3 separate regions of the Homo sapiens genome follow, and all the other regions are linked to region 3. The links come from fine-mapping of genetic effects on gene expression. A gene starts in region 3. Each other region holds a variant in brackets. All regions are shown on one strand. Distances are from middle to middle. Region 1 overlaps CUBN (cubilin). Region 2 overlaps CUBN (cubilin). Region 3 holds the start of VIM (vimentin).

The links. PIP is the estimated chance that this variant, and not a neighbour inherited with it, causes the effect.
Region 1: its variant is the best candidate, but not a certain one, in a credible set for the expression of VIM in whole blood (TOPMed, PIP 0.54).
Region 2: its variant is the best candidate, but not a certain one, in a credible set for the expression of VIM in unexposed skin (GTEx, PIP 0.82).

The regions. Positions count from the first base shown.
Region 1 is chr10:16,941,362-16,943,861 of GRCh38, forward strand. All of the region lies in intron 36 of CUBN (cubilin), which reads right to left. Among named protein-coding and RNA genes, the nearest start is that of RSU1, 130 kb to the left of the region's middle. The variant A/T (reference allele first, on the strand shown) is at 1,165.
Region 2 is chr10:16,895,896-16,898,395 of GRCh38, forward strand. The region is part of intron 54 of CUBN (cubilin); the gene reads right to left. Among named protein-coding and RNA genes, the nearest start is that of RSU1, 80 kb to the left of the region's middle. The variant T/TG (reference allele first, on the strand shown) is at 1,424.
Region 3 is chr10:17,226,776-17,229,433 of GRCh38, forward strand. It overlaps VIM (vimentin), which reads left to right and starts at 1,466. Exons shown (of 10, transcript NM_003380.5): 1 at 1,466-1,749; 2 at 2,501-2,658. The coding sequence starts at 2,648. It overlaps VIM-AS1 (VIM antisense RNA 1), which reads right to left. Exons shown (of 3, transcript NR_108061.1): 1 at 2,570-2,658. RefSeq lists a silencer at 1-159.

The sequences.
Region 1 (2,500 bases), 290 kb before region 3:
AATATTTCTCAAGGATGTAAATATAAAGGCTAGAAACATAAAGATCCTAGAAGAAAACACGGAGAAAAATCTTTGTGACCTTGGGATGGGCAAATATTTCTTACATAGAATGCAAAAAGCACTAACCACAAGATAAAAAATTAATAAATTTGAATTCATAAATAAACATTTCATTAAAGACATGAATAAGAAAATGAATAGGCTGCGTGTGGTAGCTCACAACCATAATCTCAGCACTTTGGGAGGCTGAGGTGGGAGGATCACTTGAACCCAGGAGTTTGAGACCAGCCTGAGCAACACAGTGAAACCCCCTCTCTACAAAAAATAAAATGTAGCTATGTGTGGTGGCCTGTGCCTATAATCCCAGCTACTTGGGAGGCTGAGGCAGGAAGATGGCTTAAGCCTGGGAGATAGAGGCTGAAGTGAGGGGTGATCGTGCCACTCACTCCAGCCTATGCAACAGAGTGAGACTCTGTCCAGAAAATATATATATATTTAAAAAAATGAAAAGGCAAGTTACAGACCGGGGTGGGGAAATGGGAGATAATCGTAAAGCATTTATCTAGCAAGGGACTCAAAGTTGAAATATAAAAGGAATTCCTACAGATAATGAAAAAACAACCAAATTAAAAGTGGACAAAGGGCTTGAACAGATATTCATAAAAGAAGACAAGAAAATGGCTACCAAGAATGTGAAAAGTACTCTGCATGATTAGTCATCAGAGCAATGCAACTTAAATACCACAGTCAGATATCATTCCACACCCATCATAAGGGCTAAAATTAAAAGGCTGACAAGATCAATTGTTGACAAGCGTGCAAAGCAACTGAAGTCTTATATATTCCTCGTGGGACTGCATACTGACATAGCCACTTTGAATAATTATTTGGGAGTTTCTCATAAAATTAAATGTACATCCAATTAATGCCCAGAAATTCCACCCCTAAATATATACCCAAAGAAAATAAAAACACATGACCAAGGTAGTATCCTGAATATAAAATAACTCCTGCAACTCGAAAATTAAAAACAAATAACCCAATTAAAATGGAAAACAAACCGAATACACATTTCTCCAAAGAAGATTTATGAATGGCCAATAAAAACATGAAAAGATTTTCAAACATTATTAGTCATTAGAGAAATGCAAATCAAAACCACAA[A/T]GAGATAACACTACAAACCACCAGGAAGACTATTATTTAAAAATAGAAAATAAGAAGTGCTGATGAGGATATGGAGAAATTAGAACTCTTACGCATTACTAACGGGAATGTAAAATAGTCCATCCCTATAAAAAAGTTTGGTGGTTCCTCAAAAAGTTAAACATAGTATTATCATATGAACCAGCAATTTCACTTCTAGGTTTATACCCCAATGAAATGAAAGCATGAACAAACAGGAAAGGGGAAAGGGTAAAGGAAAAAGGGAAGGGAAGGGAAGGGAAAAGGAAGGGAAGGGAAGGGAAAAGGAAGGGAAGGGGGAAGGGGAAGGGGAAGGGAAAGGAAGGGAAGGGAAGGGAGGGGAACGGAAGGCAAGGGGAAGGGGAAGGGGAAAGGAAAGGAAAAATGTACTTCTCTGTCATGTGTATCTTTCTGTTAATGCTCAACATTATCCATGGCAAGATTTTACTTTATGCTAAGTATAGTGCTCCCCTGGGGCTCTATCTCAGCTAATGGAGGAGAATAGTTAGAGATAACCAGCCTGGAGGCTCTGACCACCTCAAGCCCTACCACTAATCAATATACCAGGCACATCTCTGGTCACTCCCTGCCTACCAGACCACAGGGGTGAAGTAACTGGTCAGCTCTGCTCTAACCTAGCTCTCAAGCCAGATACTAGCATTGGTAGGTCTCTAACCAAATCAGTAAGCCTGGTGGTAAGCTGGTGGCTCTCAGAATCCCACCAAGGTGGGTCACTACAGTATAGACCATCTGGACTAGACTAGATGGAATTTTCACAGCAAGCTATAACTGATAATTGAAATCAGGATATATCCACATCAGACAAAACAAACCACATATTTGTCTCCTTTGACAATCTGATGATTTATAACACAATATTTCTATCTTCAATCTTTTTTTTATTTTGCAAGGAATTGGTCTAAATCCATCTTTGGGATGGCTGCCAACTTTTGTGTATACATTCAGGCTCAATTTTATTACTCATAATATGATCAACAATGTGAAATACGCAAAATTGTTTTCTTCTGCTTCTCAGAAAGCAGAAAGGGAAGAAAGGGAGATCATTTTCCTCAGAACGTAAATTACACGAAGTTGCCTCTAAAATCTTTCTATGCAAAGTGCATAATCCAGCAACATCGGCATCACCGGAGAGCTTGTTTGAAACAAGGAATCTGGCCCCACCAACCAACTCAGTGAGAAAGTGAATTTCAGCAAGATCCTAGATGATCAACATGCACATTAGCATTCTGTCCGATGCTCCAGAAGATTACAAAGTGAAGGTCTTTTCTAAGTACTTGACTACTGCAATCCAGTGCTA
Region 2 (2,500 bases), 330 kb before region 3:
TACATTTTATTATATAATTTCTGTTTACTTTATCTGCTTTTTGGTCCTCTATTTCTCTTTTCTTGATATCTTGGGGATTCCATTTTGATTGATATTAGCGTTTTTCTGTACATTTCTTCACACAGTTTTGGTAGTGGTTGTTCTGTGTGTGACAATGTGCCTATGTGATTATAGTAGTCTACCACCATCCACATCTGACCACTTGTGGAAATGTGATTTCCATTTAGGTCCCCTTTCAACTTTTCCATATCATTATACTGAATAACAGAGGGCATTATAATTTCTTGTTTTATTAAATATGATTCACAAGCTTTATGGGGAAAAGGATATTCTATTGTATGTACACATATTTTTGCTTTTTCCACTTTCCTTTTTCTTTTCTCATGCTCCACGGTTCTTTAATAATTTCATTTTTGTTTGAAGAACTTCTGTTTGACCATCTTTAATGGTAGGTTTCCTAGTGATAATTTTGTTTAGTTTACCTTCATATGAGAAGTTTTTATTTCCTCTTTACTCCTGAAAGATAGTTTTCCAGATATAAAATGTATGGTTGACAATTCCTTTGTTTCAGCACTTGAAGAATATATTGTCAATTCATTAGGGCCTCCATGGTTTCAGATGAGAAATCTGCTTTTATTCTAACTGGTCTTCCTCTCTAGGTAATGTCCCAATTCTCTCTGACTGCTTTCAAGACTTTTTGTTTGCCTTCAGTGTTCAGAAGTTTAATTAAGATATGTCTGAACTTACATTTCTTTGTGTTTATCTTGGTTTAGGTTCACTCAGCTTCTTGAACCTATAGGTGTGTCTCTTTTGCCAAATTTGGGAAAGTTTACAGCCACTAGTTCTTTGATTGTTCTTTCAGCTGCACTCTCTCCTCTCCCTTTGAGAGAATGTTGAATCTTTTGTTACTGTCCATGAGTCCCTAAGTCTGTGTTGATCTAGTTTGTTTGTTTTTTCAGTCTATTTTCTCTTTATTGTGCAGACTGGGTGAATTCTATTGTTCTATCTTCAAGTTCACTGATTCTATTCTCTGTCATCTCCATGCTACTATTGAGCCTATTCAGCATGTTCTTTATTTATGTTAGTGTATTTTTCAGTTCTATAATTTCTATTTAGTTCTTTATTGTAACCATTGTTTTTTTGCTGATATTTTCTATTTGTTTCAAGAGAGCTCGTCAGTGATTGTTGAAGCATGTTAATGGAAACTACTTCAACATCCTTGTCATATATTTCAACATCTGATTTATCTCACTGTTGACATCACTTGATTCTTTTCTCTTTCAAGTTGTGATGTTCTTGATTCCTGATACAACGTGTTCTTTCTGATTGTACCCAGGACATGTCATTTATTATGTTAGGGAACTTTGGGTCCTATTCAAATCTTTTATTTTAGCAGGCTGTCACCCTGTTTATGTTTACCACG[T/TG]GCCTTGCACATTTTGTGGGTTACAGTTCCAGTTGCTCTTCAATATTCAGAATCTGTGTGGTGGAATTCTGGTCTGCTTGGTTTACATTGGTGCTACCGGGGCTCTCACTGGTTCTTGCTGGTGCTACCTGAGGGACTCTGTGTGTTTCTCAGTTGAAGGCAAAGGGTATAGTAATTTTCCCCTACCAATACCCCCGGGTACCTCAATGTCTCTGGGTGGAAGAGGAGCAGGTCTGGCCTGTGGGGACAAAGAGGCTTCCCAGACTGGCCCCTTTCTGTGACTGGGACCCATTTTTCCAGTCCCACCTACCCTGGTGTCTCTGGGTGGGTAAAGAGAATCTCAGCTTTACAGGTGTTAAGTGGCTTCCTGCGGGGGCTGCTTGCCGAAGCTGGGTCCCTTTACTGGTTCCGTCCACCCACACAGCATTTCTTGGCAGAAACAAGCATCTCGGGCCCATTAGGAGAAGACGAGTGCTTCCCACGGCCACTTATTTTTGGCAGGGTTCCTAATACATCCCACTCGGCAGCAGCGTTGGGCTTGCCCGATGTTATCAGAGGGACCCCCATTCAATCCAGAGAAGGAATGAGCCTAGGCCATTTTCCACATTCCAGTTTTACAACTGGAGCACTTGAAAGTTTTACTTAAGTCTGAATACTTGATATTGATTCATTTCATGAGAAGAGAGTTCATTTAGTTCATGGAAAAAGCCATTAAGAAAAGTGTATATTAAATGTATTTTATTATATGTATATATATATATATATATATGTTATACACATATGAGATTTTCATTTAAACAGTAAGCATGGGTCAATGAGATATAAAACATCATTTGAGAGTTGATAGGAAGTAATAACACTGACAATAAAAGCCACTTTGACTCATCAAGTGACTTTAAATTCCAAGTACTTAGCACTACCTATGTTATTACATCGTATTATCTCCAATGCTTAAAACAGCCCCACTGAAGAAGGAATCATGCTCTTCATTCTACAGTTGAATAACTTAAAGGCCAATTGTTTAAGTAGCTCAGAGAAGAACATGCAGGTGGTAGGTATGACAGACATGAATGGAGG
Region 3 (2,658 bases):
AAACATATGTCTGTGACAAGAGAGCAGCCTATCACAGCCCAGAGACTTCAGAATGGGGACAGGTTGGAAGGAGGAGCTACCTATCCCTGAGATGATGAAGAGGACCAGTGCCCATTCCAGGAGACATCACCGCAGCCCTGAGGAATCGGCTATGGGCACCAGCAGGGCACAGTGCCACACCTCGCCAATGCCTTGTCCTCCTTTTCCATAGTGAGTCAGTCAGCAAGCGTCGCATTGCCCTGGGATCGGCACTGCACGTAGAAGTGAGTTCCACACTCTCTTCCTCCCATAGGGAGATCACTTTTCTCATTCTAAGGGTTCCAGGCACACTCACAATGGTGGCATTTGCTGAGCAGTGGCTTGAATAAAGGGCTCTCAGAAAGCAAGATGTAACTCAGAGCATAGGCTTGTCCTCCAGGGCACCCAGCCCCAGGAATGCTCTTGGGGAATGACCTGCAGCCTCCCAGTGAAAGAGAGAATAAAAGAAAGCCCCAGCAGGCGAGCTGGGCAGTAGAGAGTCCTGTAATTCCACCTTGGCAAGCACCATTTGCAAGAACGAACTGGGATAAGGTAAACAAAATATTGCCTAAAAGAGGCTTGTCCAAAGAAGTCAGAATACGCTCTTCATTTACCTCTAAATTATGTTTCTTAAATACCAAGTAACCTGCAGTACCCCCTGCCGCCACCAAAAAAAAAGAGAGAAATACTTTTTTTTCTCCTATCCACTGCAGAATCAATTTTACAGTGGTTCTGCAGTTAATCCTTTCAGTACACCATAAATCTAAATACTCAAAAAAACCTGTGCCTTTTCAATTGCTACTAAATCACGAGAAGACTGATTTACATAGTCTCCTTTTATCTCCCTTGGCGGGTAAGTACTCAGCTCTGCTCGTTACTAATATTGAAACAACAGCCCTTGAATTGAGTGATTTCCCTAGAAAGGTTAAGGTGACCGAATCTGAACACTCCCTCCATGTCTTGGACACGAAGTTTTTTGCTGCGTAGACAGTTTTATCCCCCTCACCCCAAGGTCAATTGCACGAATTCTTTTGGAAAACAGGACCTATGGCATTTCCCAGACAAATCACCGTGAACCCTGTACTGTGCATTGCTGTCCTAAAATTAACACATAAATCTATTGCCGCCAAAGATTCTGTCATTTGTGTTACATAATTGCCTTTCATTTGAACTCATTAATCAAATTGGGGTTTTTAAGCAACACCTAATTAATTCTTTAACTGGCTCATATTATACCTTTAATGACTTCCACCAGGGTAAAAACCACTGATCACTGAGTTCTATTTTGAAACTACGGACGTCGAGTTTCCTCTTTCACCCAGAATTTTCAGATCTTGTTTAAAAAGTTGGGTGTGGTTTCATGGGGGGAGGGGGAAGAGCGAGAGGAGACCAGAGGGACGGGGGCGGGGACTCTGCAAGAAAAACCTTCCCGGTGCAATCGTGATCTGGGAGGCCCACGTATGGCGCCTCTCCAAAGGCTGCAGAAGTTTCTTGCTAACAAAAAGTCCGCACATTCGAGCAAAGACAGGCTTTAGCGAGTTATTAAAAACTTAGGGGCGCTCTTGTCCCCCACAGGGCCCGACCGCACACAGCAAGGCGATGGCCCAGCTGTAAGTTGGTAGCACTGAGAACTAGCAGCGCGCGCGGAGCCCGCTGAGACTTGAATCAATCTGGTCTAACGGTTTCCCCTAAACCGCTAGGAGCCCTCAATCGGCGGGACAGCAGGGCGCGGTGAGTCACCGCCGGTGACTAAGCGACCCCACCCCTCTCCCTCGGGCTTTCCTCTGCCACCGCCGTCTCGCAACTCCCGCCGTCCGAAGCTGGACTGAGCCCGTTAGGTCCCTCGACAGAACCTCCCCTCCCCCCAACATCTCTCCGCCAAGGCAAGTCGATGGACAGAGGCGCGGGCCGGAGCAGCCCCCCTTTCCAAGCGGGCGGCGCGCGAGGCTGCGGCGAGGCCTGAGCCCTGCGTTCCTGCGCTGTGCGCGCCCCCACCCCGCGTTCCAATCTCAGGCGCTCTTTGTTTCTTTCTCCGCGACTTCAGATCTGAGGGATTCCTTACTCTTTCCTCTTCCCGCTCCTTTGCCCGCGGGTCTCCCCGCCTGACCGCAGCCCCGAGACCGCCGCGCACCTCCTCCCACGCCCCTTTGGCGTGGTGCCACCGGACCCCTCTGGTTCAGTCCCAGGCGGACCCCCCCCTCACCGCGCGACCCCGCCTTTTTCAGCACCCCAGGGTGAGCCCAGCTCAGACTATCATCCGGAAAGCCCCCAAAAGTCCCAGCCCAGCGCTGAAGTAACGGGACCATGCCCAGTCCCAGGCCCCGGAGCAGGAAGGCTCGAGGGCGCCCCCACCCCACCCGCCCACCCTCCCCGCTTCTCGCTAGGTCCCTATTGGCTGGCGCGCTCCGCGGCTGGGATGGCAGTGGGAGGGGACCCTCTTTCCTAACGGGGTTATAAAAACAGCGCCCTCGGCGGGGTCCAGTCCTCTGCCACTCTCGCTCCGAGGTCCCCGCGCCAGAGACGCAGCCGCGCTCCCACCACCCACACCCACCGCGCCCTCGTTCGCCTCTTCTCCGGGAGCCAGTCCGCGCCACCGCCGCCGCCCAGGCCATCGCCACCCTCCGCAGCCATGTCCACCAG